Regions from separate parts of the Homo sapiens genome. Here all the other regions are linked to region 4. Evidence: fine-mapped expression QTL. A gene starts in region 4. Each other region holds a variant in brackets. All regions are shown on one strand. Distances are between the middles of the regions.

What was found.
Region 1: its variant is fine-mapped to the expression of SPATA13 in cerebellar hemisphere (GTEx, PIP above 0.99).
Region 2: its variant is fine-mapped to the expression of SPATA13 in whole blood (TOPMed, PIP above 0.99).
Region 3: its variant is fine-mapped to the expression of SPATA13 in whole blood (INTERVAL, PIP above 0.99).
Region 5: its variant is fine-mapped to the expression of SPATA13 in whole blood (TOPMed, PIP above 0.99).
Region 6: its variant is fine-mapped to the expression of SPATA13 in whole blood (TOPMed, PIP above 0.99).
Region 7: its variant is fine-mapped to the expression of SPATA13 in whole blood (TOPMed, PIP above 0.99).

The regions. Positions count from the first base shown.
Region 1 is chr13:24,213,279-24,217,344 of GRCh38, reverse strand. The region is part of intron 1 of SPATA13 (spermatogenesis associated 13); the gene reads right to left. Among named protein-coding and RNA genes, the nearest start is that of SPATA13-AS1, 39 kb to the left of the region's middle. The variant T/A (reference allele first, on the strand shown) is at 1,618.
Region 2 is chr13:24,289,206-24,293,271 of GRCh38, reverse strand. It overlaps SPATA13 (spermatogenesis associated 13), which reads right to left. Exons shown (of 13, transcript NM_001166271.3): 9 at 2,388-2,620. Among named protein-coding and RNA genes, the nearest start is that of C1QTNF9, 18 kb to the left of the region's middle. The variant G/A (reference allele first, on the strand shown) is at 1,725.
Region 3 is chr13:24,277,225-24,281,290 of GRCh38, reverse strand. All of the region lies in intron 4 of SPATA13 (spermatogenesis associated 13), which reads right to left. Among named protein-coding and RNA genes, the nearest start is that of SPATA13-AS1, 25 kb to the right of the region's middle. RefSeq lists a silencer at 232-311. The variant G/C (reference allele first, on the strand shown) is at 1,784.
Region 4 is chr13:24,158,549-24,162,614 of GRCh38, reverse strand. It overlaps SPATA13 (spermatogenesis associated 13), which reads right to left and starts at 1,895. Exons shown (of 13, transcript NM_001166271.3): 1 at 1,683-1,895. It overlaps MIR2276 (microRNA 2276), which reads right to left and starts at 199; the gene lies at 111-199. RefSeq lists a silencer at 1,945-2,004.
Region 5 is chr13:24,184,547-24,188,612 of GRCh38, reverse strand. The region is part of intron 1 of SPATA13 (spermatogenesis associated 13); the gene reads right to left. Among named protein-coding and RNA genes, the nearest start is that of MIR2276, 24 kb to the right of the region's middle. The variant A/G (reference allele first, on the strand shown) is at 1,785.
Region 6 is chr13:24,305,097-24,309,162 of GRCh38, reverse strand. SPATA13 (spermatogenesis associated 13) reads right to left here. Exons shown (of 13, transcript NM_001166271.3): 13 at 2,094-4,066. It also overlaps a transcript of C1QTNF9 not described here. Among named protein-coding and RNA genes, the nearest start is that of C1QTNF9, 2.4 kb to the left of the region's middle. The variant C/T (reference allele first, on the strand shown) is at 2,117.
Region 7 is chr13:24,222,085-24,226,150 of GRCh38, reverse strand. It overlaps SPATA13 (spermatogenesis associated 13), which reads right to left. Exons shown (of 13, transcript NM_001166271.3): 2 at 1,569-3,332. The coding sequence starts at 3,221. Among named protein-coding and RNA genes, the nearest start is that of SPATA13-AS1, 30 kb to the left of the region's middle. RefSeq lists enhancers at 321-1,177, 1,952-2,021, 2,222-2,331, 2,036-2,892. The variant G/A (reference allele first, on the strand shown) is at 1,956.

The DNA of each region.
Region 1 (4,066 bases), 55 kb before region 4:
CACTGATGCTATTAGGAAGAAGAATTGTAATAAAAAGAGAGAGAGTGCTGAAAACCATGAATGTGCTACCAATTAGTTTCAGAATAGTTTTTCTGAAATTACTGGAAAAAAGTTTTAAGAGACTCAATCTTGCTATGTTGCCCGGGGTGGCCTCAAATTCTTAGACTCAAGTGATCCTCTCACCTCATCCTCCAAGTAGCTGGGATAACAGGTACATACCATGGCCAGTTAAAACCACTGAAATTTATCATTTCCTTTTTTTTGTTTTTGTTTTTGTTTGTTTGTTTTGTTTTGAGACAGAGTCTTGCTCTGTCATCCAGGCTGGAGTACACAGTGGCACAATTTCAGCACACTGCAACCTCGCCTCCCACACTCAAGTGATCCTCCCACCTCAGCCTCCCAAGTATCTGAGATTGCAGGCACATGCCACTATGCCCCACTAATTTTTGTATTTTTAGTAGAGACAGGGTTTCACTATGTTGGCCAGGTTGGTCTCAAACTCCTGACCTCAAATCGTCCTCCCACCTTGGCCTCCCAAAGTATTGGGATTACAGGCATGAGCCACCATGCCCAGCCATAATTTACAACATTCATAAAGAGAAAGCATCCAAGGTCCTAATTTCAGAGATGAAGTTATTCCCCAGGCCTAATGCCAGACACCGTCCTTCCTCTTCCTAGCCCCAATATACATACCTTAGTAAAAGAAAGAAGCCCCCTTACCCTTTGATCTGGTACCTTCAGGGTCTCTCTGTGTAAGGAGTAGGTAAGATGCTTCAAAAGAGCATCTGTAGCTCTGGCGTCACTTAAGTATTCAATCACTGAAGTTCAATGTTTGTGAATTGAAAGTATATGGACAAATGCAACTAGAATAAGCGTATCTTTTGGAAAGGTGTCAATTTCATACAAGCGTGTGATTGTCTTGGCTTGCCTTATGGGGGTTACTGGGCTAAAACACATTCCTGTGGGTGAGAATGGTGTTTCCCCAATAGGGATTCATATTTGCTTTGTCAATCCTCTGGGGTGATGGGGTGCAGAAAACAAGGATTTGCAAAGGCAGGTCTTAGACCACAAAGGAAAATCTTCCTTCTGTGTCTAAAGTTGCAGGTCAGGCTGGTGTAGTGAGAGATGAAAGGGCAGGTAGGTCTGAGCTTGTGCGAAAGATGCTGGCATCCTCCATAATGCCCCTCCCTGCCTGCGTCCCCAACCTCTGCACAGTGACAGCCTCTGAGCTCCTCTTCCTCCAATCTCACAGCAACCTTGGAAGGCTCCAGGGGAGCTGTTGCCAGTCACAGCCCTCAGCCCTGAAGACTGCCCTGCGTCTTGACTTCCTACAGCCATGGCCTGTCCACCACCTTTCTGGTGGTAAACAAGATTGCAGCAGTAACAATGAAGTTCCCGGTTAGGACTACCTCATGCCTGCAACCCATGCCAAAACTGATGTCACCACAAGACTGCACCTCCCCCACATTTACCATTCAGGGCAATGAAAATTTTCCAGATGGATGGCCCTAATCCTGAAGGCACTGTGATGGTCACTGGAGCAAAAACAATGTCTCTGCTTGGCAGAGGCAGACTGGCCCAAATCTGGAGCTGTGTTCACTGAGTTCACAGGCTAAG[T/A]CACCCAACAGTGCAGTCAGCACAGAATACCCCTAAAGGGAATGATGTAGCTTTTACATCCACAGCTTAATTAGACATACTTAATAACTGTGTGTAAGAGCATATATGTGTGTTGCATTTTATTTTTGCTGCATTTATTTTAGTGTTCAATTTTTTTGTCTTTGCATAAAATGTGTTTCCAGGCAGAGCCCCAATTTATAGCTTTGCATTCTGAGGAAATGAGATTAATTTTCAACTCAGCTTCCACCCAGCAGCCTATCAGGTCTTAAGGTAGGGGATGTCCCCACAGACCATTTTGCCACTGTTGAGGACAGAGGCCCAGAAGAGGCCCTTTCCCTGTGCTGTGCAATCAAGTGTCTCATCCTCTCAAATTAGTTTTACACATTAAAGCAGTTGCTGAAATGCCTTCTGCTTCTAATTTAAACTGTCTTCTAATTGAACTGAGATTTGCATATTGTTTTCTTGCAAGCCCTCCCTGCCTCTTGGCACACATCTCCTCATTTAGGACATGCACGACAGTCATGTGACATGATGCCACCAATGAACCAAGCCAGAGGTGACCAGCTACTCCTCCTGAACAGGGGTCCCTGGAGCACACACCCCATCTCTCAGAGGCGATCTGTGAGACTTTGTTAGAGGTGGAGGTTCTCATTGCCAGCGCGTCCTCAGGGAGACGCTGTGCTCGAACATAACCAACACACAGAATTCAGGAATACTCTGGTATAATATCCCAGGGACATGGCTCCTTTGACACAGCTTAATAATGTTTTAAATATGTCAGATGCTCAGTGGGGACTGAAATGAAAGCAAGTACTATATTCTGACTTTTGCGAGAAGTTCAAAACCAGCTGAGTTTAGTTGCTAGGAAAACTAAAGAATCACTAATACTTAAATATGTTGAATCTCAAAAAGGAAAGCGGAGATGCAAGATGAGACAAGGTTATGTTACCCTTTACAAGGCAGAAGCAAATGGGAAGTGAGAGTCCCCATGCAACTAAGGAGGGAAACAGATGTGCTGCTGACAACACAGATGCAGGGAACCCAGTGATGACTGGACAACACCAGGGAGCATCCCTCTCAGCAAGACTGAGGGACAGGTGAAGGGGAGGAAGGGCAGCAGCTGAGGCTAAGAATTTGGGGTCAGGGTTCTTTGCTTTGAATTGCTTTGTTATGTGACCTGTGCTAGTCACACAACATCCCTGAACCCAGCTTTCTCCATGGGATCCTAAAATTTCTTTTAGAGCAGTTTCTTTTACTTTTAGAGAAGCACATGCATTGTAAAGAGAAAATTCTCATCAAAATATTAATTATTCTCATGGCGTGACACCTTTCTTGGTAACATGTAAAGTTGATAGTTATAGGTCATTGCTAATAGGGAATGGTATTCTGGGTCAAAATTTCCAGATCCAAAGACGTGAAGCAATCTGTTGAAAAGTCAATGGATTTAAGTTTATTGTACATGCATCTGGCCTTAGGTAAAAGTGTCTATGGAGGTGCAGAAGATGTACCACATGTGCAGGTGGCTGCTTTGGGGTTGATCTGCTTTGTGATTCACAGATGGAAGCACTGCCTACTCCCTGCAGTCATCCTGCTGCCTCAAAGGTCAAGGCCAGATAGAAGTGATGTGCCACCAGGCTCAGTCAGAGATTGGCAAAGATCACCTGAATGCGGATCTGGAGAAGGTGATCGCTTTTCCCAAAGGATGCCTCTGAAACCAAACATATATAAAATGCCATTATTTCATTTCAAAATTAGCTGTATCTTTTCTCCATGAGTATGGATCATACATGCCTTCAGATTCCTTCAACCCTGACTCAGATAATAAATACCAGAAGGTAAAATGTTCTGTAAACTGTTGAACAAGTAGTATTCTAAATATCAATTTTTAAGTCACTTGTTCAGACTTGAAGACACATTTTTTCCTATAAGATTCTCGTATCATCTTCCCCTTCCCACTTAATTTATAATGTAAACAAATTATGTTAAAAATATTAATAGGATCGCTATATTAAAGTTGTTCATTAGTAATATACTAAAATAAATGAAGTCATACTTCTATGAAAAGATGAACTGGATCTTTGACTTAGAAGCTTGAATGGTAGCAGAATGAGAAAAAGGACAGGGAGAAGGGTGTTGTCCTCTTTCTAGGATAAGAAAGACCCTGGCCGGGCATGGTGGCTCACATCTCTAATCCCAGCACTTTGGGAGGCCGAGGCAGATGGATCATGAGGTCGGGAGTTTGAGAGCAGCCTGGCCAATATGGCGAAACCCTGTCTCTACTAAAAATATAAAAATTAGCCGGGCATGGTGGCCCACACCTGTAGTCCCAGCTACTCGTGAGGCTGAGGCAAAAGAATTGCTTGAACCCAGGAGGTGGAGGTTACAGTGAGCCAAGATTATGCCACTGCACTCCAGCCTGGGTTTCAGAGCCAGACTCCATCTCAAAACA
Region 2 (4,066 bases), 130 kb before region 4:
TTCAATTTTGTGGCTCTCTTGACTTCCCTGTTTTTTTTTTTCCACTGAACTTTTCTGATTTCTCCATCAGAAAAAGAAAAAAATATATAGCTCTCTCTTCTTTTATCTATTTCAATGAACTCCTTTTTCTAATTCCTTTAGTCCTAACTCTTTAGCTAACACCCATATCTAGTGTCTATTGTTCAGTGATCTGCTCTTATTCTTTACTTTCCAATCTAATTGTAAGAAGGCTCTCCCCACACCCTCGCCTTTTTTTTTTTTTTTTTTTTTTTTTTTGAGACAAAGTCTCACTCTGTCACCCAGGCTGGAGTGCAATGGTGCGATCTCGGCTCATTGCAACCTCCGCCTCCTGGGTTCAAGCGATTTTCGTGCCTCAGCCTCCCAATTAGCTAGGATTACAGGTGCCCGCCACCATGCCCAGCTAATTTTTGCATTTTAGTAGAGATGGGATTTCACCATTTGGCCAGGCTGGTCTCAAACTCCTGACCTCATGTGATCCACCCGTTTCGGCCTCCCAAAATGGTGGGATTACAGACGTGAGCCATGGCGCCCGGCCAGAAGTTTCCTTTTTTAAGTCTGTCTCTCCACAGGAGTTCAGAGGCAGAGAGGACAAAATAATGATTCACTCTCCACTCCCTGCAGGAAGATATTTAGCTGCTGAAACCCAGAACTGTTGTGGTTTGCCATAGAAATTTCCTCCTGGTACAATCCCTTCCCTCTTCCTCTTCTCATTAGGACCCTTTGAGATGACCCTCTCCAGAGCTGCAGGTGCAGTTAAAGACTTTGTGTCAGGGGCATGGACCCTGTTTCGATTCTCATCTAAAAGAGTCAGCTTTAGCCTAGACCCCTGCGCCCCTGGGTAGCCTGGCTTGGAGCCTGGCACATAGCAGTTGCCCTATGACTATCCTGTCCCTGCTGGCCAGGTGAGAACTCAGAATTAGCCAAGCACTGCTACCTTGAGGTACCCAACAGCTGGGCTGTGCTGTGATGACATTTTCCCATGGCATGGAAAATGGGCATGCACATTCCAATGCTGAATGGGTGACATGCCTAATGTATAACCACACAAAGGCTTCTGTGCATGCACGAAATGATGGTTGGCTATTAAGGAAACAAAGGGTAACTTTTGGCTCCCCCAGAAGAGATCATATAGCTAGGGAACAAGGGCGTGAGAAGAATCCAGAAACAACCAAGGCAGATAATAAAGACAGAGAGAGGCCGGGCGCGGTGGCTCACGCCTGTAATCCCAGCACTTTGGGAGGCCGAGGCGGGTGGATCATGAGGTCAGGAGATCGAGACCATCCTGGCTAACAAGGTGAAACCCCGTCTCTACTAAAAATACAAAAAATTAGCCGGGCGCGGTGGCGGGCGCCTGTAGTCCCAGCTACTCGGGAGGCTGAGGCAGGAGAATGGCGTGAACCCGGGAAGCGGAGCTTGCAGTGAGCCGAGATTGCGCCACTGCAGTCCGCAGTCCGGCCTGGGCGACAGAACGAGACTCCGTCTCAAAAAAAAAAATAAAAAAATAAAAAAATAAAGACAGAGAGAGAGTGTATTTTGTTGCTTGTTGTTCAGGAGAAGCCGAGATCCAAACAACAGAAGTGTGAGTAACAAGAAGAGCTTAGTCAGGCACCAAGGAAGCTCGAAGGGAGATGCAGCATTCAGGTAAGCATGGAAGGAAGCCCTGTGCTCCCAGCAGGAGGGAACAGGGAGAAGACCAGAGAGTC[G/A]GCACCCCGGTGGGTAGGGAACGGCTCAGGGCCCAGCAGGTGCCCAATGCCCTGGTCTTCTCAGCTGCCCCATATGGGTTTGCACCCCTGACAATCCACACCCTTTTACAGTTCAAGCTTGTGTGTGCCCTCACCCCTTCTAAATAGAGAAGGGGTTGCTAAATAGAGACTGCTTAACAACAAGTAACTTTAGGTAAGCCACTAGTAAGTAATGTTTCTGCCATAAAGAATCCTGCTCTGAGCCGAGCTGCTGTACGTCAACCTCAAGGGTACAGGAGAGAACCAGAGTTATGGCTTTCCATTCACACTGGTCTGTTTCCCTCAGAAACCGTCTTTACTAACTACTGAGTACTCAAAGACATGTTTATAAAATACAGGTAAGCAACATAACAATACAACAAAAGCCGCCATGCACTCGTGGCACAGCTCACGAATGGCCCTTGTGTCTTCATAGCTCTAGGACTGGATATCCTGGAGGCTCTTCAACCACTCTATTTCAATAGTTAATTGCACACATTCTAAACAACCTGAAAACTTCTCCCATGGAGCTCCCAAAGTGTTAAGGCTGACACTGAAGCCCACCTATCACTGCCTGGAGTTAAGAGCTGCCTACGGGTAATGGCAGCAGTGCTCTCACCTGTGCCCCTTACCCATGCCCCTCACCCGTGTTCCTGTGTGGTATACTTGAGCAGCTCGGCCAGCTGCAGCGGGTATTTGCAGATCTTCTGCACTGGTGTGAGCAGGAACCCGTCGATGGCGATGTCAATCATCTGCTGCAGCAGGCGGCAGGCTTCAAAGAAATGTCTGTACTTGCCCTGCTTCATGAGGTTGGCGAGCTCCAGGCAGGCGCCCGGGTGGTTGTTGCAGTACTCGGAATAGATGGCAAAGCCCTCTTGCTGGGAAGGAAAAGTACAGCTTCGTCAGCTTCTGGGGTGCCTCTGGGACATGACAAAGACAGGCATCATCCCAGCCCTCTCTAAGGGACACTCCTAGAAAGGAGGAAGATGGACTACTGCAAGAAGGACAGGGCATGAAATCCGCTGGCACCCAAGCTGCCCTGCCATGGTTTCCGCAAGCGTTATCTGGCCGGCGAGAAGGGGTGCTTCAGCAGGCTCCTGAGGGGGTTGGGGATGAGGCTGCCCTGGAACTCAGCACCCTGGTCTCTTTCTAGCCTGCCTCACGCTCATCCTGGAAGGTGGGGAGCAGGGCCTCTAACGTCCCCCTCCCACAAATTTTTTCAACTCGCTGAAAACCATGTATGCAGTTTTAATCGTTGCTTATTCTTTGTGGTTTACAACTAGTCTTGTCAGGTTTTCCTCAAAAATGCCCATTTCAACATACCTCTCTTCCCAATTCTCTGCCGTCACCCTGGCTGGGCCCGCCAAGACCCCTTCCCTGGTGGCAGCAGTACTCCCCTGTCCTCACTGTGAGACTTACCTTCCTCATGCCACCACCTGGCCTCCAGCCTGTCCTAAGCTGGCTCCTGCAGGAACCTTCTGCACAGGCCACACAAGGAGGCCTGTGACAATGTCCCAGATATGCCCACGTCACACATGGGGCCCAGCCTCCAGCTGACTAACTTAACACAAAAACATTATGCCCAGCCACTTAAAATCTATCTGCCCCAGAGGACTCTAGACAGCTACTGAGCCCAGCACCCAGGAAGTGAAGGTGTGGTGAGGCTGTCATTGTTATTATTATTACTCTTACTGTTCCCTAGCTATTTGGGCTGGGACTAAAATCTTCCTCTGAAATCCTTTAGCGGTTAAGTAGTAATAGTCAATCATAAGTTAAAAAATGATAAATGCATGTTATCACAGGAAGGTTCTGAGGCAGTTACAGTATCACAACCATGCGTCCTGGAGCCGCATGCCCGGGTCTGCCTTCACAGATGCCTCTTACTGGTATGTGGTCTTGGGTTACTTACTCTCTGGGCCTTAGTTTCCTCATCTAGAAAGTGAGAGATAATCATATCTACCTCATAGCAATACACAAGCTAATATAAGAAAACCCTGGAAACAGTGCCTGAAATGTAATAGACACTTCCTGGATATTATTAGGAAGGACTCCATAGTTCTTATGGCATAACCCTTAGAAATTTTTAAAAAGTAATTACTCCAAATGTAACCCCCTAATTCCAGACTACATAAAAGGATTTTGAAAAAATGAATTTGGGACATTTAGACAAGATTAACTATACAGATTTTGTTTATATGATAAGCATATAAGATAGAAGAAACATCTCCTTTCTATGGAAGATTCATCTAGCAAACAAACAATAAAACAAAAGAGACTCCTGTTTTCTGTGGAGATGCACTTCAAAATTATGTAAGCAGATGTTA
Region 3 (4,066 bases), 120 kb before region 4:
AAAAGTGAAAGTGAGCTGTCTAAGAGACCAAGAGACGGGGTTGGAGGGGGAGGAGTAAATTCCCGGGCCTAAGCACAAAGCCAAGAGGCAGAAGAAAGCGCTCCACAGCCTTGGTCTTGCCTTCTGGGCCCTAGCTTTCTTACCTGCTCATTAAAGGAGAGGGGACGGTTGCCAGGGGCATGGCAGGGCCTGGCGCCTCAGGAGAAGGGAGTGCACCCTGGGAGCACGGGTGGGTGGGCAGCAGGGAGCCAGCTATGCATGTGTGTACCCATGTCTGTCTGGCTGGGGGTGTGGCTGGAGGCCTTGAGAAAGCCAGACATGTGCTGTCTGAGAAACACGGGAGCCTGAACAACGCATGGTGACTGTTTCGTTTTAAATGTAACTTCTGCTTCCTATGCTAGGCCAGGGTGCGTACAGTCGGAGAGCAGGAGGTCACCTAGTCTAGTATGCTTTGCTGGTGTGTGAGTTTGGGGGTGGGTTGGGGGATGTCTTGAGGAAGCACATCATTTTTTTCATGCATGAGTGTGTTTTAGACTCCAAGGGAAACAACACTGAAGACAAAGGCCTTCTCTAACCCTGGAGCGGCTGCCCAGACCACGAGGCCCAAGAACTGTGCTGCTTACTGGCCGAGATATCCTGATGCTCCTGGGTGAGGAGCATATACACAAAGTCTGGGTGTCTAATGCCTAAAGCAGCAGGAATCTTCCAATTTTAGCAACCACTGATCTGGCACTGTCTGGTACCAATAGCATTTTTCCTTATCAATTTAAACCGTGGTTGAGCCAAAAAAAAAAAAAAAGTGCATCTCAGTAAAATAAAGGCATTGGGGCTTCCCACCCACAGCACAGCTCTGAAAAATGACGCTTTCTCCTCGAAGAACTGAACAGTGTTTTCCAAGGGAGAATTCTTTACCATGATCTAGCTATTGCTGTGAAAATCAGTAAAGAAAGAAAAAAAGCTGGTTGTAATCATGTATAAATTCACAATTAACAGGAGTCTATTGAAAAGTTAGACCTTTACAGGAGGTACCAGGAGAAAAACCTCTGGACAGAGACACGGACTGGAAATACTGACTGCTCTCTGAGTTCTTCATAAACACTTAGCAAAACAGCTCTACCCGGGGTCGTGGTACGCACCTGTAGTCCCAGCTACTTGGGAGGCTGAGGTGGGAGGATGGCTTGAGCCTAGGATTTCCAGTCTGCAATGAGCTCTGATTGTACCACCAGACTCCAGCCTGGGCAACAGAGCAAGACTTTGCCTCAAAAGAAAAAAGTAAAGAAAAAAGACAACTCTGGCTGAGGTTAATCACAAGAGAGGTTTCAACAGCAACTGTTTCAACATCATGGATTAGTAGTTAGCGACACTGCGGAAGCAAGATGGCTTGAAGCGCTCATGGGTGGGCTGACTCAGTCCTGGCCAGGAGATGGGGGGCAGAGGCCAGGGGCAAGAGACTTGAAACATGGACGAGGGAAAGTCATGGAGCCTGGAGTGAAAATTCCTGGGTGAATGTCCTTGCTTCACTAACTTCCTAACTAAATGACCTTGGTGCAAGTCACTTCAGCTCTTTGAGCTTCAGTTTTCCCATCTGTAAAGCAGGCATTAGCCTGTATGTTTTATCTATTCAGAGGTTATTCTTCCACCTCTCACATCCCACGACCCACTCACTGGCAGATCTGATTCAAGTTCCTGAAAGTGTCCAGGATCTGGCTACCTCTTACCCCTCTGCCACCACTCAAGCCTGGGTCCCCTCCCACCACTTAAGCCTGGGTTCCCATCCAGCTTC[G/C]GGCTCCCTCCAGCAGCCCCTCCTGGTCTCCCTGCTGCCACCCCTGCCCCCGGCAGGCCATAGCTGCCAGAGCGATGCTGCCAAACCATTCCTAGACTGGATTGTGTCACTCCTCTGCTCAGAATCATCCACAGGGGAGACAGCCAAAGTTCTTGAGACCTCTCCCCAGATACACTGTGCCTCCCACCCCTCTCCAACCAATGGGCTCTTGGCTGCAAAGACCGCAGGCACTCCTTGCCCAGGGCCGCTGCTCCGTGTGCCTGACAGCCCTCCCCAGGTACACACACACTGGCTCCCTCTCTCACCTTCACCATACCACTCAAAACCACAACCCTCACTCTCACTCCACTGTCTCCCCTGGTTTAGTTTTCTCCATAGCATTTGTCACCGTCTATAATGTATTCTGTTCACTATCCAGAATGTAAGCTCCAGAAAGGCAGTAATTCTTGTCTGCTTTATTCTTAACTGTGTTCCTGCCTGGCATACATGGGAGGCAGGGAAGGAAGGAAGGAAGGGAGGGAGGGAGGGAGGGAGGGAAGGAGGGAAGGAAGGAAGGAGGGAAGGAAGGAAGGAAGGAAAGAGGGAAGGAAGGAAGGAAGGAAGGAAGGAAGGAAGGAAGGAAGGAAGGAAGGAAAGAAAAACAGCATGTGGACTTCATGCAAGGCTTTGGGGTCAGATGAACTTGCCTTCAAATGATAGCGATGCACATTTTTTTTCTTTTCTATATTTTTCTTTTTTGAGTATGAGTCCTTGGTCAAGTTTCTTTCTTTGTTTTTTCACCTGTTGAATGTGGATGATAAAACCCATCTCTCAGGGTTGTTTATACATTCTGAACAAGTACTTGTTATTGGTGTGCTTTGAGCCTCAAGTGGAATGATGATACATGAAAGCACCCTGTAAATTGAAAAACAGTATAGAATTGCAAGATGTGGCTGGGCGTGGTAGCTCATGCTTGTAATCCCAGCACTTTGGAAGACTGAGGCAGGAGGATCCCTTGAGCCCAGGAGTTTGGGACCAAGCTGGGCAACATAATAAGACCCATCTCTATAAATTAAAAAAAAATTAAAAATAGAATTGCAAGATGTTATTTTATCAGGTGCCTATAATGTGCTAGGCACTGATTTAAGCTGTGGAGATGAACCGGCTCATATAATCCTCATGACAATGCTACATGGGAGGTACTGTCAGTTGTCCCCACTTGCAGATGAGGAAACTCAAGTCCCAATAACACACAGCTGTGTGCAGCAGGCTCAGGCCATCTAACTCTTACCCACTGGGCAGAACTGTCTCCTCCAGCAGTAGCTGTTACTTGTAATAAGACAAAATGATATTAAAAACAGTGTTAGTATCCAAATCTGTGTGTTTTGCTCCCATTCTGGAGAGCAGCCGTATGTCCTGCCCTCCGTTCCCTCACTAACCCTTCCTTCCAACTACCAATCCCTGCTCCCAGTGGGGCCTGTCAAGGACCTGATTCCATTTTCTGGTTGTATCCTTTTCCCTTCACCACCCTAACTACTTTCACGATTTTAAAGTCCCTTAAAGTTAATGACTCCTGTGTTCCTGTCCCATAATTCAAGTGTGTTTTATGGAGTGGGATTTCTCAGTGTCTGATGTCTAGACAGGAAGAATCTTTGTGCTATGCTTTGATGCTTCGTCCAGGCCTGGTGGTTTTCTATGATTCCCCACGCTTACTGTCTAGGTCGCTTACCATCTTAAAGGACAGGACAGACTTAAAGGAAAGGACAGACGTTTGATTTTTGTCTTCCCAGCCCCTAGCATAGTACCTGGCATACAGAAGGCACTCAGTATGTGATTTCCAATTGAACTGCAAATTGCTGATGTGGAAACTGAGGTTCCAAGAAGTTGAGTCATTTATCAGGGCTATACAGGGGCTGGGTCCGAACCAGGATAGGAACCCAGGTCTCTCTGACTCCCACCCCTGTGCTCATCTGAGATTCTAGCTAGAAAAATCCCTCAGCCAGTCTTCATGACTCTGTTTCCCTCCCCAAGCCATCCTATATATTACTTCCAAGGTGAACTTCTTCTTTTTTTTTTTTTTTTTTTGAGACGGAGTCTTGCTCTGTTGCCCAGGCTGGAGTGCAATGGCGCGATCTCGGGTCACTGCAAGCTCCGCCTCCTAGGTTCACGCCATTCTCCTGCCTCAGCCTCCCGAGTAGCTGGGACTACAGGCGCCCGCCACCACACCCAGCTAATTTTTTGTATTTTTAGTAGAGACGTGGTTTCACCATGTTAGCCAGGATGGTCTCGATCTCCTGACCTTGT
Region 4 (4,066 bases):
ATTGACATTAATTCTAGAACTATGTAGAGGATACGACTTCAATAAGAAAACAATCAGTCAGAAGCAGTGGCAGAAGGGAGGGTCCTGAAATCCAGAGTCCTCCTGCAGAGATGCAGCTGCCACTCCTCGCCTCTGACACTTGCAGACATTCGGAGAGAAAGCCGTCTGCAAGGTGACAGAGGGCGGACTGGAAGAACACAAGGAACCCAGGGATGCTGATGGAGCATGGAAAACCGCAGCAGAAGGCACTGAGGCAAGGTGTGCCCTCCAGGCGGGGCAGGCTGTGGCTGGGCAGAGCGCCTGCCAGGGAGAAGTAGGGCAAAGGGAAGAAAGCACCTGTGGGAGAAACATGGGGAAACAAGGAAGAAACCTGCATATGCACGGGAGCACAAATAAGGAAGGAGATGGGAGAACTGGGTGGAGGCAGATGGCAAACGTGGGGGCCAAGGGAGGTAGATGAGAATTAGGATATGGGATAATAAGACAAAGCCACATGAAACTCTAAAGTGCGGGAGGAGGGCAGAGAACAGGGAGGGTGCATGACAGGCACCCCGAGAATAATGCAGTGAGGAAGTTTGCAAGACGGGGGAGGGGGACATTAGGAAAAAAGGAGAATTTGTTGGGAAAGGTGGAAAAAGAAAAGGAGTGAGATTTCTCCGCCTGTTAGCAAGGGGAATAAAGGAGAGCAAATCGCTGGGTGACCAGGAAAGGTTCACAGAGAAGAAAACACGAGGCAGCAAAAACCGAAGGTGGGGACAGAGAAAATGCTGGCAGGGGGAGGTGCATAATATAAGGCTATGGGAAGCCATGGGAACAAGAGCTGAATAAATTCACAGTATTATTCTATTTATCCACATCCCTATGCAATGCTGGGAAGCAAATGACCCACAGGGTTTTGTTTGCTTGCTTTGGTTTGGTTTTCCTGCACTTGGAGGGAGGGGAAATTTGCTCAAGCTCTGTAACCTTGCAGTCAGATGGGTGGCCCAGCCCAAGTCACCCGAGCTCCCCCTGACGCTGGCAGCAGCGCGGGCTTCTACCTGCCTGGGGCTGGAGTACCAATTCCCCCACCTCCTGCACAGAATGGGACCAAACCAACTCCGCCAATGCATTCCCTGCAGTCCACAGACGATGGGCACCGGGTCCCAAAATCTTTCCCCTGGGACGAGACTCCGCTGGTACCAAGAGAAACTTGCTTTCTAAACTAAGCTCTCCAACCGCATCGCTCCGGGTCCCCGGAGGCACCAGCCACGCCACCCGATGGAGCAGAGCGTTACAGGGCTCCGCCGCGCCAGGCTCCCCAGACTCTGCCACCCCCACGGCCGCCCCTGTAGGCCAGGCCCCGCGAGCTGGGAGCGCGGGTGAAGTTACAAGGCGACCTCCCTGCAGGCTTCCGGCTGGAAACGGCCTTTTGCGAGAACACCACGTGCATGTCCTCCCAAAAGCGATGGTGCCGGGTGGCCCAGAGGGCGCAGAGCCACCGCCGGGCAGGGAGCGGGCGCACGGACCTAACAGGTGAGCACCCGGTAGCCTCCACCGGCGGGGGAAGCAGAGGCCAAGCAGCTGGGAGCTGGACATCCCGAAGCCCCGAGGCAGTCCACTGGGACTCAAATCCTCCCGATATTCTACCTAACAGCCCATGCCCGCGCCCGCCCGGCAGAGCCGCGCGCCCGAAGCCGTCTTACCTCCTGCGGCGCCTCTTGGCGGAGCCTACAAAGTCAGCGTGTCCAACACGTCCCTGCCCTCAGAGCCACCTCCGGTGCCGGCGGAGCCCCGAGGTCGCCGCACTCTCGGAGGAGCCTGGGATCCAGTGCGCGCCCTCGGAGCTAGCGACCGGCAGGGCGATCGCGGGAGAAAGCGCAACGCACACTCTCCTCCCGCGCCGCGGCAGCACACTCAGCCAAGCCACGCCCCAGCCCCGCTCCCCACCAGGCCACGCCCCCAGCCCGGCTCTTCCCCCCGCCCCATATCAGGCCACGCCCCCGGTTAGCTCACTCCCTCAGGCCACACCCTCGGCCACGCCCCCACACTACCAACCACAGCCGGGGACCCCACCCATCAAAAACAGTTCCCCGGCCAGGCGCAGTGGCTCTTGCCTGTAATCCTAGCACTTTTGGAGGCCGAGGTGGGCGGATCACCTGAGGTCAGGAATTTGAGAGCAGCTTGGCCAACATGGTGAAACCCCGTCTCTAATAAAAATAAAAATTAACCGGGCGTGGTGACAGGCGCCTGTGATCCCAGCTACTCAGGAGGCTAAGGCAGGAGAATCACTTGAACCCGAGAGGCGGAGGTTGCAGTGTGCCGAGATCGCGCCACTGCACTCCAACCTGGAGGACACAGCCAGACTCCGTTTTTTAAAAAAAGAAACAAACAAAAATAGTTCCCTCAGCCACCAGCCAGCCCCCACCCCCCAGGGCGGGAAGAGGAGTCTCATCTCCGGGGCAACCGTGCCCCACTGCCCACTGCCTGGGCCAGAAGTTCACTCCCTGTGAAAGGAAAACGCAGGGTAGGGATTTTTAAACCTACATGTTTCCCAGGGCCTGGGGCAAGTCTTGAGTAGACTGTTGCAGTAAACCGACTCAAAGGCCTATCACCTTTCTTGTGAGGCTCAAGGCCTAATCATTAATTGACATGAAAACCACAGAAGAGAAGCAAACCCTTCTGTGCTGGGATCTGTGCCCCAGTGCTCCATGTTCCCTGATAGGCAGCTAATGGAATTCATAAAATAAATGCATGCTTTCTACCAGTGTAGTTTTTTAGATGATTCATTTAGTGGCCAGCACTATTATTTATAAATGTCTATTGTCTTTTATAATCAAAGAACAATACCCACAATCTGTAAAATAAAAAACAAAAATTATATTACCCAATGAAAAGTGAAAATTAATTTTATGTATGTTTTTTAAAATATTGAAAAAACTCTGTATGACATTATAATGGTGGCTTCATGTCATTATGCATTTCTCAAAACTCACAGAATGAACAGCATGCGGCGTGAGCCTCCTGTAAGTAATGGACTTAGTTCATCTTAATGTAACAACATGGGCCCATCAATCATAACACATGTGCCACTCGAATGTAAGATGTCAGTACAAGCAGCTGTGTGTGGAGGGAGGGGCGTGAGGGAGTACATCAGAACTCCGTGTACTTTCCATTCCTGTTTTCTAAACCTAAAACTGCTCTAAAAATAGTCTATTAATTAAAGCACACTCCAAGATTAATGATAATTATCTGTGGGTGGTGGAAATATGGGCAAATTTTATTTAATTCTTTGAATTGTTATTGAAATTACCCCAAGTTTTAACAATGACCATGTATTTTTAAAGCTGAAAAAATATAAAAACCAAACCTTGGAAAATTTTAGAAACATAGTATGTGAGGCTAATATCATTGACTGTTCCATTTTATTTCTACTCTATAAAAAATCTGCACAAAGCACTCACAAATGCTAAAATGAAATCTATGTTAGTATTATTTAAAAAAAAATATCACGGTCTAAATTGAGGGTTTTTTTATTATCTCTTTAGAATTAGCACAAATCTGAGGAGCAGATTTTGATTTTTCTTTTAAAAAAATTGTGTTTCAAAAGGTTATTTCTGCCTACTTGGAAACCACTATTAACATTTACATGCAATACTTTTTATAGTGAAGAAAGCACTATATTTGAAACTATGTCCTTGGGAAACAGGCCTGGCCCTCAGATGAATGGATTTCTGTGGAGTGATACCAACTAGACCTGAAGACCCCCGCATCCTTGAGGCCCTGTACAAGCCCTGGGCGAGTGCTGGACCTTGCTGAATCTCAGCTTCCTCGTCAGTGAGCCGGTGACAGTGGGACCTCACTCTGCATTGGGTGGAGAATTAAAACTTTAGCCCATGTAAGACTCTTACTATCTATCAACTTAGCACATACAGGTGCTTGCTGATTGTTTGTTTGTGAGTTTTAAAAAATATTTTTTTCAGGGTTTCAGTGAAAACCTTTTGAGCGCCTGGGATAAAAGATATGTCTGGGTTCAGATTACAAATCTATTAGAGGAAGGCAGGATGGCTCAAGAGAAAATTCACTGATC
Region 5 (4,066 bases), 26 kb before region 4:
TTATGTTACAGAGATGGCTTCTTTCCTTAAACCTCAAGAACCCGCATCTACTAGCTTCAAACCTTTCTTCACCTCTCTCAGTCTTCACAGAATTAAAGAGAGTTAGAGACTTGCTTTGGATTAGACTTTGGATTAGCCTTTGGCTTAAGGAAATATTATGGCCAGTTTGATCTCTATCTGGACCACTAAAACTTTCTCAATATCAGCGATAAGGCTGTTTCACTTTCTTAATATTTGTGTGTTCACTGGAGTATCACTTTTTTTTTTTATTATTTTTTTTGGAGATGGAGTCTCGCTCTGTTGCCCAGGCTGGAGTGCAGTGACATGATCTCGACTCACTGCCTCCCAGGTTCAACTGATTCTCCTGCCTCAGCCTCCCGAGTAGCTGGGACTACAGGTGCATGTTGCCACGCCCAGCTAATTTTTTGTATTTCAGTAGAGATGGGGTTTCACCATGTTGCCCAGGCTGGTCTCGAACTCCTGAGCTCAGGCAATCTGCCCGCCTTGGCCTCCCAAAGAGCTAGGGTTACAGGCATGAGCCACCACGCCTGGCCTGGAGTATCACTTTTAATTTCCTTCAAGAACTTTTCCTTTGCATTCATGACTTAGCTAACCATGTGGCACAAGAGGCCAAGCTTTGAGCCTATCTTGGCTTTCAACATGCCTTCCTCACTAAGCTTAATCATTCCTAGCTTTGGATTTAAAATAGAGATGGGCGACTCTTCCTTTCACTTGAACACTTAGAGGTTATTGTAGAGTTATTAATTGGCCTACTTTCAATATTGTTCTGTCTCAGGAAATAAGAAGGCCTGAGAAGAGGCAGAGAGACTGGGAGTGGCCAGCAGTGAAGCAGTCAAAACATATACAACATTTATTGATCAAGTTTACCATCTTATATAGGTGTAGTTCATGAAGCCCAAAACAATTACAATAGTAACATCAAAGATCTCTGATCATAGATTACCATAACAGATATAATAATTTAAATGCTTGAAATGTTTTGAGAATTATCAAAAAGTAACAGACAAGATGTACGCACATGCTATTGTAACAATGAATGGCGCCAATAGACTTGCTCCACACAGGGTTGCCACAAACCCTCAGTTTGTAAAAGGTGCAATTTCCGCAAAATGCAATAAAGCTAGGCAGAATAAAACGTAAGCCGGTCGCTGTTTTCCACATCCCTGTCAAACTTCTATAAATAGAAGGGTGGAGAGAAAGAGGGCAATGATTGTGTGTTAACAAAGCCACTGAGAACTGAAGATAGCTAGGACTACTCAGAAAAGAGGCCAGACAACCAGAAGCGTAGTTTCTTCATCTACCTCCAGTCATGACTCATGTGTCACTCTGAGGCAGGGATGACTGCAACAGAAAAGCAGATCTTGCTGTGACTATTTCTTTCTCCTTTCTTTGGATAGCTAAAGAATTTTGGTAGCCAAAATTCATGGGTTCTGAAATTCCTAGAATTATACAAGCAGTGAGAGTAGAGCATCTGAAAACAGACGACATTGCTTTGAAAAAGGTAGTTTTGTGCTAGGCTGTCATAACATGCAACCTGGTGTTTGCTGGAACATCCTCCTCAAGGAAAAGGATTAAGAGAAGTCTCTTTGTTGGTTCTTCTCAGTTTGCATAAATCAACACCTACACATCTGACCCATAATGAGGCTCTTTTTAACTAAACAGCATGTTAAGTGTGACTTTACAGAAATGAAATCAACTTCTTAATAAATTCACCAATTGGAATTTCATGAGAATATGCAAAAGCCAAACACACTAGGATTTCC[A/G]ATCCTATTTCCAGCTCTTCCTTCCCTTTTCTCTTCAACTTGATCAACCGCCTCAATAGCGTTGTTGCCCATTTCAAACAAGTTGCCCTGTGGAGCACTTCCCTCTCAAACCTGTATTTTCTGTGCAGAAAATTAATGTTCCCGTAACAATGTTATGCTTTGCTTTGGCCTCCTGACACTGAAGGTTAAGAAACTCTGAAAGGGAACTAACTTCTCTTTAGCTCTTGGGCCTAGCACAGTGGCATTACTTAGACCCTGGGGACAACCTAAAATAATTTCAGCTTTAATCTTGACTCGTAGAACATTGTTGATGTCCTATTTTTATTCGTTTCTGGGATTTAGGAAACTCTGTCATCAGTTTTTCTGGACTATGGCTGATGTTCCCTCTTGGTTTGAAGACTATTATCAGTCGCCAGCAAACATACAACACGTGAGTTTGTGTATCCCTGACATATCGTAAACCTCTGACCTTAGTCATACTATTAATCCCTAATTGCTGGTGTAGCATCCAATTTTCCTGTAGCTATTCCCAAACCTTCTAATTTTCTACTTTTGCTTTGCAATTAACCCTACATCATGTAAGCAGGTGAAGCAAAGAGGACTTCTTCTTTAGGTTCCCCTGTGAACCGTAACATTCCCGTTTCCTCACTGGTAGTTGTGATGGTTCATCTTATGTGTCAGCGTGGCTAGGACTGTGATGCCCAGTTATTTGGCCAAACACCAGTCTGGATGTTGCTGTGAAGATCTTTTCTAGATGTGATTGACAGTTAAATCAGTAGATTTTGAGTGAGGCAGATGATGTGGATGGGCCTCCTCTAATCAGTTGAAGGCCTTAAAAGACTGAAGTCTCCAGAAAAGAAAGAAATTTGGCCTTAAGATTGCCATAAGATTCAAGCCTAAAACATCAACGCCTGCCAGACACTCCAGCCTACTGACCTACCCTGCTTATTTTGAACTTGCCAGGCTTCACAATCACATGAGCCAATTCCTTAATCTCTCTCTCTCTCTCTGTCTCTTGATGTATGTGTGTGCGCACACACACACATTCTTTTAGTTCTTTCTCTGGAGAACCCTGACTAACACAGGGCTCATGAAAAAAAAAAACTGCATCTATTTGTATGTGTTCTAAGTTAAATCCAGGAATTGAGAAACCTTCAATTATGATGTTTCATATGATGTTTAAAACACGATGCCTATTACGTTAACACCAATTATTTCCTTAAGATTTCTGAAATGAGACCATATAAAGGACTTATCAATAGTCATTATGTCAAAATTACAGAAGGCTATTAATGGATTTAAAATTAAACGAGTAGTTATTTCCAGAGGTGATATAAAAGCCTTAATTTGGCCATTTAAAATCTTGGTTCTTTCAGCCCTCTTAAAAGGTTTATTTCTCATTAAGTGGATCTCCAGATAGCTTAAGAATAAATTACAGTCTTGAATCAGGAAAATCTAAATTATAGGGCCCTAAAAATCATCCTCATGGCAGTACTTCACTAAGAAATAAAATCCCTTGTGGAAAAAATTTCTTTATAAAGCAAGCAGTAAAACTTCACTGAGTGCCTATCATGTGTGATGGGCACTATTACACACAAAAGCATTTATTGTATGGTCTTTTGTAACAAACTAGCATCTACTCAGCAGCACAAAAATACGTCACAGGGGAACTTCAGGGCTTATGATTAGGAAAGGTGGCACACAAGGAGCTACAGAAAGCGGGGGAAATGCCCGAACTGGCAACAAATGCAGTGACAGAGCAGGTCCCCTGGAGAAGCAAAACACAATGCTCGATACACGTGCCTTTCAAAGACGGCCCCAGTGCCCACTTTCAAAGGCACCCGCACTTTCCTGAGGAATGACCCATACGGCTGCTAGGACTCTGGAAGAGTAAAGAAGTGGTCATTTTCCGTAGACTCCGTCGCTTGACTCAACTCAGAACAACAGGAAAACAATGGATTTTCCTTTTACACTGCCTTTCATCAAAATAACTAAAGAAGTATTTTATTAAAAAAAAAATCTGGACCCATCCTGCCTTTTCAAGTCTTCATAATGTCACCAGAGAGGTCATACCATGGTGGACACGATTTTATATTAGGTCCAGTCACTTGGACCTTCACAACTGAGATCATGAAATTAGCAGAGCGTTGAACTTTGTCCTGCACAGAAAACAAAACTCCTCACTGTGATTAGTGAGTTCATGCTGTTGCCCAGCATTAAGTTAATGGATAACAACAATTACACATCAGAGAGAAAAAAAATCAACAAGTTAAACAGACACT
Region 6 (4,066 bases), 150 kb before region 4:
TGCTTCAGTGCTTCTCCCTGACCTTGGGGTAATTACGGGCAACAGGACAAAACTGAAGGCTGCTAACTGTTAAGTGGCTGGGTCTCATTTGGATCCCGGACCATTAGAATTCCTACCGCTTAATTAGATTTTCAGATGGGTGTGTCGTAATGCCTTACGAGTTTAGGCATTTGTGTAGGTAAGGATTCAGTGTCCATTCCCCTCTCACAATCACACACTCCACCTACCACGGAGAACGCGGTGCAACCATTTGTTCAATGCCAGTAATCATGGACTCACTTTCCTCGTGTCTAGTAGTAACATTTATCTAAAACTTACAGTAGCTTCCAGAGGACAGAGGAGCCCAGCCCGGTTTCCCGAGATGCCGCAGTGCACGCAGCAGGAGCAGAGGCCACGCACAGAGCAGGAGGCCACGCAAAGAGCAGGAGCAGAGGCCGGGTGTACGGGTGGGTGCGGGGCTCACCCCAGCTCGGCGGCGAGGCCACGCACAGAGCAGGAGCCCACGCACAGAGCAGGGGCAGAGGCCGAGTGTACGGGTGGGTGCGGGGCTCGCCCCAGCTCGGCGGCGCCGACTCCCTCTCCCGCCTTACTCGCCCCCGTGCCTCAATTTCCCCGTCAGTGCAGCGGACATGACAATGCCGTGGTCCCAGGTGGGCGGCGGGATCTAATTAGTCGGTGTAAAATGAGTGAGATCTGGCTTCTCCCCGGCACCCCGCAGCCTGCCCCCACTCTTGGTGGCTAAACGCAAGGAGCCCCTGAGTCCCAGCTCCGCTGGGGGCTCTCAGCAGTTCTGGCCGGGCTCCCTCTTGCTCGCGTGGCTGGTCTCTGACCCCTGCACCGCAGGCGGCCCCGACGGAACGCGCGACGGGTCCCCGACCTCCTGCTGGGGACACCCGTCTCGCTGCCCGGCCCTTCCCCGCTTCCCGCGCCTCTGCGCCCCGGAGAGCTCTGAGACAGGACCACCTGGGCAGCCTGCCGGCCTGGACCTCTGCCTCAGAGCCAGCGACGGAAGCACAGCCTCGGGCCTCCACCGGCCACGCGCTCCCCATTCCGGGCTCTCCCACGTCTGCACACTCCAGCCCAGCCACGCGGAGAGGCTTCCAGAACCTGCCCTGCGGCCCCGCTTTGCTGACACCCCACTCACTCCGTGGGTTCTTCCTCCCGCCAGGACCCTGCCGGGGCCTGGGGTCCGTGGGAAGCCGGCTCAGGAATCAGGATCCTGGCCTCCTGCTTACAGGGAAAAGGGCTCCATCCTCCTGGTGTTTCCCGACTGCAGCGCCTCCAGCCTCCGGGGCTGCTGCGGCCCAGGTTCAGCTGGGTTCACTCCAGCTTTGCTGGTCTCGCCAGTGCAGAGTAGGGGCGCGCTTATGACCTAACGGTCATCTCCCCACAACTCTCCTGGAAGAAAATGCCACCCCCATCTCTTTCACTGTGTCCTATACATGGAGCCACTATGCTCTGCCCTATGGGTTCTGGGGCTCGCCCCCTCCCCACCCTAGCGACCGCCCTTCCCCAGTGCAGCCCAAGGTTGGGAGGAGCAGATCACTTTGGGAAGCAGGTGGATATTAAGAGTAAACAAAAAGTGGGCAGTAGCCACTTGGCAGCCTTCATAGGAATCCTTTTCTGATTACAGCCACAGCAAACAATGGGCTGTTGACTTAGCTCTTCTGAGCTGTTGGAGAAGGAAATTCTAATCTACCCACCCGCAAAGGGCGAGTGAGCAGGGCCACTAGCACAGCTCCTGTGGCAGGGCCTAGCCTTCAGGGGCAGTCAGAGGGCACAGTCTGTTGTTCTGTCTCCTCTCCATGATCCCTAGCAAAAGCGGCCCCGCCCCACTGCTCCCTTCCGCATCCCTCTTACTCCAACCACTGACGTTTCTCAAGCCAGGGTGCCCTCCGAGGTTGCCCTCGGAGCCCCCCTTCTCCCACGCCTACCCAGTGGTTACATGGAGCTCCTGAATGGATGAGTTGTTGCCACTGAGAAGTCTAGGGACATCAGGGCAGCAGAGGAGCTACAAATCCCAGAAGCCCCCGCACCCAGCTCTCCACTTCCTCCTTTTAAAGGCTGCTACTCAAATGCATCATCAGAACGAGTTTGGCAAATGAATTTTAATATA[C/T]AAAACAACAAATATAGATTCACAGCATTTAAAAAAATCATTCAAATAACATTGTAAATAATTTTTTTTTACAAAAAACTTCAACAAAAATACATATCAAGTTACATCAATCTTGTACACTATACTTTGGCTGTCAACAGCAAATTCCTCAGTTCAGAAGTCCCATTCTTTGACCTATACAGATGACACATCATCTTGAAGTTAATGAGCTAAAATGTTGCCCAAAGCCTTGCAAAGTAGGTTAGCGAGTCATACAGAATGGACACTAATATTTACAAAAAAAGATTAGAAAGATTAAAAGTATTTTCTAAATATAAAATGTCAGTGCCTGTGAGATAACTAAAGGCAACAATGTAAAGTATGTTGTAGCTAAGTAAACTTGTATCAAATATTTAAGCTTTTGCTTTTTTTTTCAAGATCAGTCATGTTCCACTTATTTTTCCAAAGCCTTTTGAAATCCACTTTCATTGCATCCTGAAAACAATGAGACTTTAATAGAACAATTTGCAGATTAGGTTATTATGGGAAAGCTGGGTCTGCTAGTAGTTTCACCTAGTTGACTTGGGTCCTCCATTTCTGGCCTGTGAGCTGGTGAAAGGACATTTATTCATACTTCTTGACACTCCTTTGAGGGACAATTCTAAGTTTCTTCTCTCCCTGACAAGTAATAGTGCAGAAATACTCCCCCTAACTCCAGGTAATTATGCTGTTCTATTCTGACTGGGACACCAAGTTGATCTGCATGAAGGAGTATCAGCAATTTGGCTTGCAGAGATTTCCACCTGATAAAATGCTGGTTCAGCTGGCTTTTACAAAATACTTATATTGTGAACCAAATTTTGAATTAAATGCACTTTGCTTTATGTCTAGATAACAGTCATGTAGGATGGGGGGATTTTCTGAATAAGAATGGCATCGGTTTTCATCTAGGCTAGGTATAAAAAGGCACAATATTCAGAAATAGTGTTTGATGGTGGTGAAATGTTTTCAACTACAAAATCAGATCTACAGTGGGAAACAAAAATCAGATCTAATGAAAAGAAACCATGTGGCTGGTATCCCAGGGAAGCTCCAGCATACTACTGCTGCCCTCTTTCTAGTCCGCAGGCCAAAGACAAAGAAATCTACTGCTCCAGGATTCTGCAAACATTCAATTTTATGATTTTATAATTGCTTTTAATCTACGGCAGGGTTTTTATATGTTTTAGGTATGATCACAATTGAAAAGGTTGCTTTTGACCCAAGGCTACTTCAATTATCTTCTAACAAAGTCGACCAATTCTGAAACGTGAAGAATGGAATAGGTGAAATTCATCAAAATGTTATGTCATCTTTTCTTTTCTTGGCCCATCTATAATATTATGTAAAGTAAGGTTAAAAAGAGAGAAAGGCATAGAGGCGGGAGAGAGCAAGATTCCCAATGAAATTCATACACTGTCCATGGAGGAGGCTCTCTGTTCCCTTTCTTTCCAAGTGGAACACGTGACTCAAATCAGGAAGGAAGTTTGGCAAATGGAAGATGAGAATACTTGAGCCTTCCATTCTTGAAGAACTCAGGCATGTGGTAATAAAACCCAAGCCAGACATGCAGATTTTCAAGAAGTCAAAGGATGTTCTAGCCTTTTAAAAATGTTAGCAGTTTTCAAAATCACCTGAACATCCAAGTAGGATCCACCCAGGAGAGATCTTTAATGGAGTGACCCTCACACTCTATAAAACTGACAGGGGCAACGAATTGAACCTGACTTAACAAAAACACATCCTGGTATTCATAAGTCTCTGTTAGGAAGTCCGTGGAGGTAGGTGGGAGCCGGAAGTTAGGGCTCAGCTGGAAAATAAATTAGGACTGGCCACAAAATGCAAACCATTTCTTCATTACCCATGAATAAATATTAGGAAATGGAAGTCCTAAGAATGACTCTTAAACTGAATCCTCACTGAAAATGTAAC
Region 7 (4,066 bases), 64 kb before region 4:
TCAACCAATCAAATGGTGCTTTTTCCAGGCCTGCCCATGGACCAATCAGCATGCACTTCCTCCATTCTGAGCCTATAAAAACCCCCAGACTCCGCCACTCATTGGGACTACCTGCCTGCAGAGAGGAGCAACACATTCCAGGTCTCCTATGGGCTGAGAGTTGTTCAGTCACCCAATAAAGCTCTTCTCAGCCTTGCTCACCCTCCGTTTGTCCACGTAACTTCATTTTTCCTGGATGTGGAACCTGCCCAATGGTGGGAGCGAAAGGAGCTGTAACACTTTCCCGGATGGCTCGCCCAGCTGCAGGTGGGAGTTAAAGGGGCTGCAACAAATTCCTGGCCAGCTCACCGAGCTACAGACAGTGACATGCCCCTGGACTGCAGGCGTGAAGAGTGGCAACCCTTCTGGGGGCCCAAACCTTGGGATTCCCTCAACTAAAGTTGTAACACTATAACCCTCCCAATTTCCACCAGCACCAGGCAGCTGCAACATGCAACAGGAAGCAGTGGTGGGGCTAGACCAGCCCAAGAGCTGCATGCTGGAGTGGGGCAGTGGGACTGAAGGAGATATAACACAAATGGGGTGAAACATACTCCCAGAAACAAGCCCCCCTGCTTGCTGTAATGCAGGTGATGAGAAGAAGAGAGCTGTGGCCCTTCTGGGAGCCCAGATGAGAACCAGGCTGTGACAGGCCGTAACACCCTCTTTGGGGCTCTGTGATTCCTGGTATCTCTGAGCTTTCACTCGTCACCACGTTCCCCTCGTCCACACGCTGGTGCCTGCAGCGGAAGCCAGCTACAGTGCATCTGGTCCAGCCACAGCCTTGCATGGAGCCAGCACCTGTGCCGGCACCTGGAGCTGCCTGCCCTGCTGCAACAGCTGACATGCCTGGCTGTGTGCAGAGGCTGGACTCCATGCTCACTCACTCACACACCCCTCGCTGCTCCATTCCTGGTTTGCCCTTGGCAGGCATGGGATCTGGGCTGGCAGTGCAAGCCGAATGCAGCCTGCTGGGCAGAATGGGTGGAACGAGGCTAGTGGGCACGAGCAAAACTCAAGCAGAGGCACTGCCAGCCCACAGAGGTTTCCAGCTGGTCAAGTGACACCCACAGGTGCTGTGACATTAGGACAGGTAATAGTCTCTTAACAGAAAGAATTTCACTTATATGTACTTTGTGGGAAAGGTTACAGAAACAGCTTAAAATACAAAGAAGAAAGATATGAGTCAGAGCTGCATGGAGCAGAAGACAGTTTGTTTACAACTTATTTTTTTCCCCCAGAATCTAGTACCTGGTACATGTTCAATAAACATCTTTTGAATGAAAGGTGTGGCAAATGTCATCTCAATGAATCTCGTACATTGTCAATTTATTTCAAAGGAGATAGAGATTACTTCTGAACTTGGTAAACAGCAACTTGACAACTCCCATTCCCACTAATACTGTAAGGGCAACAAGGTCAGCAGAGGGCCACTGACCTTGACAGGTTAGGGACCAAGGGCAACACCTGTGCAAGCTCCCTTCCCGCAGGAGGGTCGCCCACATGAGGGACCTCGCCGCTGCCCTTACCTCCTCCTTCTCCTTTTCTTCTGGGCCGGCTGCCACACCAATGTTCACCAGAAGGTCCTTGCTGCCCTCATCACCATGTGTGGCTTCCAGGGGATCCTGCAAGGACACAGGCCCTGGCTCTCTCTGAGCAGGCTCTTCTGCCCTTCCTTCACTTTCCTCTGAATTCGCGGACAGGGCACTGTGATTGCTGTGACAGCTGGCACTTCCTGCCCCGGGGCTCTGGGGGCTCTGAGGGCTCTGGGGCTTGGGTGTGGTGGGCCTTAGAGGGGTGGGAGGCTGCTCAGGGTCAAATGTCAACTGGCTGCCAGCGTTTGGGTCACAGGAGTCTTTGCTCAACACATCCTGGACAATCGGGCTTGGCAAAGAGCTGCAAGTGCAGGAACTGTC[G/A]CTTTCCACCGCCCAGGAACTTTTGGTTTCAAGAGGAAATACGGCAGTGTCAGCGTCTAGGTGGGGCCCCTTAGAGGTGGCTGAGCCGAAACCGGGGGCCACGGTGCAGGTTGCAGTGGTCCCATGCATGACCGCCCCGCCCCGCCTGCTGTCCTGCTCAGTGCTCCTGGAGACGCGGCGGGAGTAGTCGTCATGCAGCCGGCTGTGTGCCTGAAGTCTCAGGCTGGCCTCTCCAGGGGATGGGGCCCCACTCCTAGGACTCTCCCTCCTCCAGGCAGCCTCAGTCACATTGCTCACAAGTTTGAAGACTCTGTCAAAGTCCTTGGCCCTTATCGGGCTCCTCCAGCGTTTGGTCCTTCCTGACCCAAGCTTTTGGGAGTCAGTGGAGGAACTGCTCAGGGTCCTCTGTGGTACCCGTGCGTCATGGGCCGTCCTGAGGTCTGCAAGATTGGAGGTGGACTTCCGCTTAAAGGAGCTCTTCTTCAGAAAGGCAAGATTGTCCGTGCTCTTGCTCCTCCTGTAGCCCATGCTGTTGTTTTCAGGGTCCCTCACGAGAATCTCACACACGGCGGGCACCTGGCCAGTGGCTATCGTGGGTGTCGCATGGTTCTGGGGCGCATCCAGCAGGCAGATGCGGCCCAGGCCGTAGGCTCTGCGGAGGCTGCGGGAGCGGTGTGTGCTCCGCTGGAAGGCATCGTCCGTGTCCTCGAGGTCGGAGCCATCCAATGTGCCCCACTCTGCTGGCCTGAGGGCACCACATGCTGGTCCCGGTGCTAAGGGGGAGCCCCTGCTTGCCTGGGCTCCTGGGACAGCGCCATTTGGGATGGACTTTCCCAGGCCATGCTCCGAAGCCTCTCCCTTTGAACAGGCATTTGACCCCTCTCGGCTCTGAATTCCTTTCAGGACTGAGGACTTCAGTTTCTTAAAGGATCCCATTTTCCGGAAGGAGGCGAGGGTGTTCCATGTGGAGGAGTTCCCCACCAGGACCATGGAGTGGGGCCGCTCGGGGTGGGCACCCGTCCTCTTCCGACTGGTGGAAAAGAGGCGCACAAGCTTGGCTGGGCTGAGTTTGGCTTCCTGGGTGTCCGTGTCGCCACCAGGGCTGCAGCCACAGACTCCATTTCCACACGCAAGGGAGGTCACCATCTTGGCGTCTTTCAGGTCCGAGCCTGCACAGGGGGCTGCGGGGCCTGGCCCGAGGCCGTTTGGGGCAGTGGTCATGTTCTCCAGGCAGGGTGCCCAGGGCCGCACGGCAGCCTGGGTCATGGCCACGGGCACTGCCGAGTCCGCAGACCGCAGCTCCAGGCCTTCATCTCCAGGAATGCCGTCCTGGCACTCACACCTGCCTTGCACATCGGGCTCCTGGGTGGCCACGGGCTGCAGTGAAAGACAAAGCAGGCGGTTTAGCCATTTCCCACGCAGTAGCCCCTCTGCTCACAGAAGAAGAGGCACGCTCCAGCACAGGGCTGGTCAGATGAAAGCTACTTCAAACTCAATTAAAACTGTACATTTCCCCTCCATTCACTTCATAAGTTGAAGGAAAGATGCAAATATACATCCCTGGACAGAGAAGGGTAATTATGGGCTGTGCCACGGACATGAAGGTAAACTCCTGAGCTCACTGGAACCTGTGTAGGTGAGACTAGGAAAAAAACCGCTGGAATGAAAATATCTAGGTATCATTCAACACTATCTTTTCTTCTTATTTGAAATGGAAAAAAAAATAATTAGGAAATACCAAAAGAAAACCTCACAACGATTTCAAAAGCATGACATTAAAATGGCAGCCTGTGTTGAATCCAACATACCGAATACTCAAACCAAGTGCTGGCACACGCAGGAATAAGCATGAGGAGCAGAGATGGAGCCCCACATGCTGGCAGCTGCCTCCTGTCCAGGAGGGCTGAGACGCCCAAACACTAACTGAGAGCCTCACAGGGCCACCTAGACACAGGCGGGAAGGACTCAGCAAGGACATGCCAGGGCAGCCTCTGAGAAGGAAACACATTGGTGGGGGTCTTTTTCCAACTGGCCATACAGCAGAGAGAAGTGAGGATGCTGCTGAAGTATATTAGAAATTCAGGGTTGGGTGCAGTGGCTCACGCCTGTAA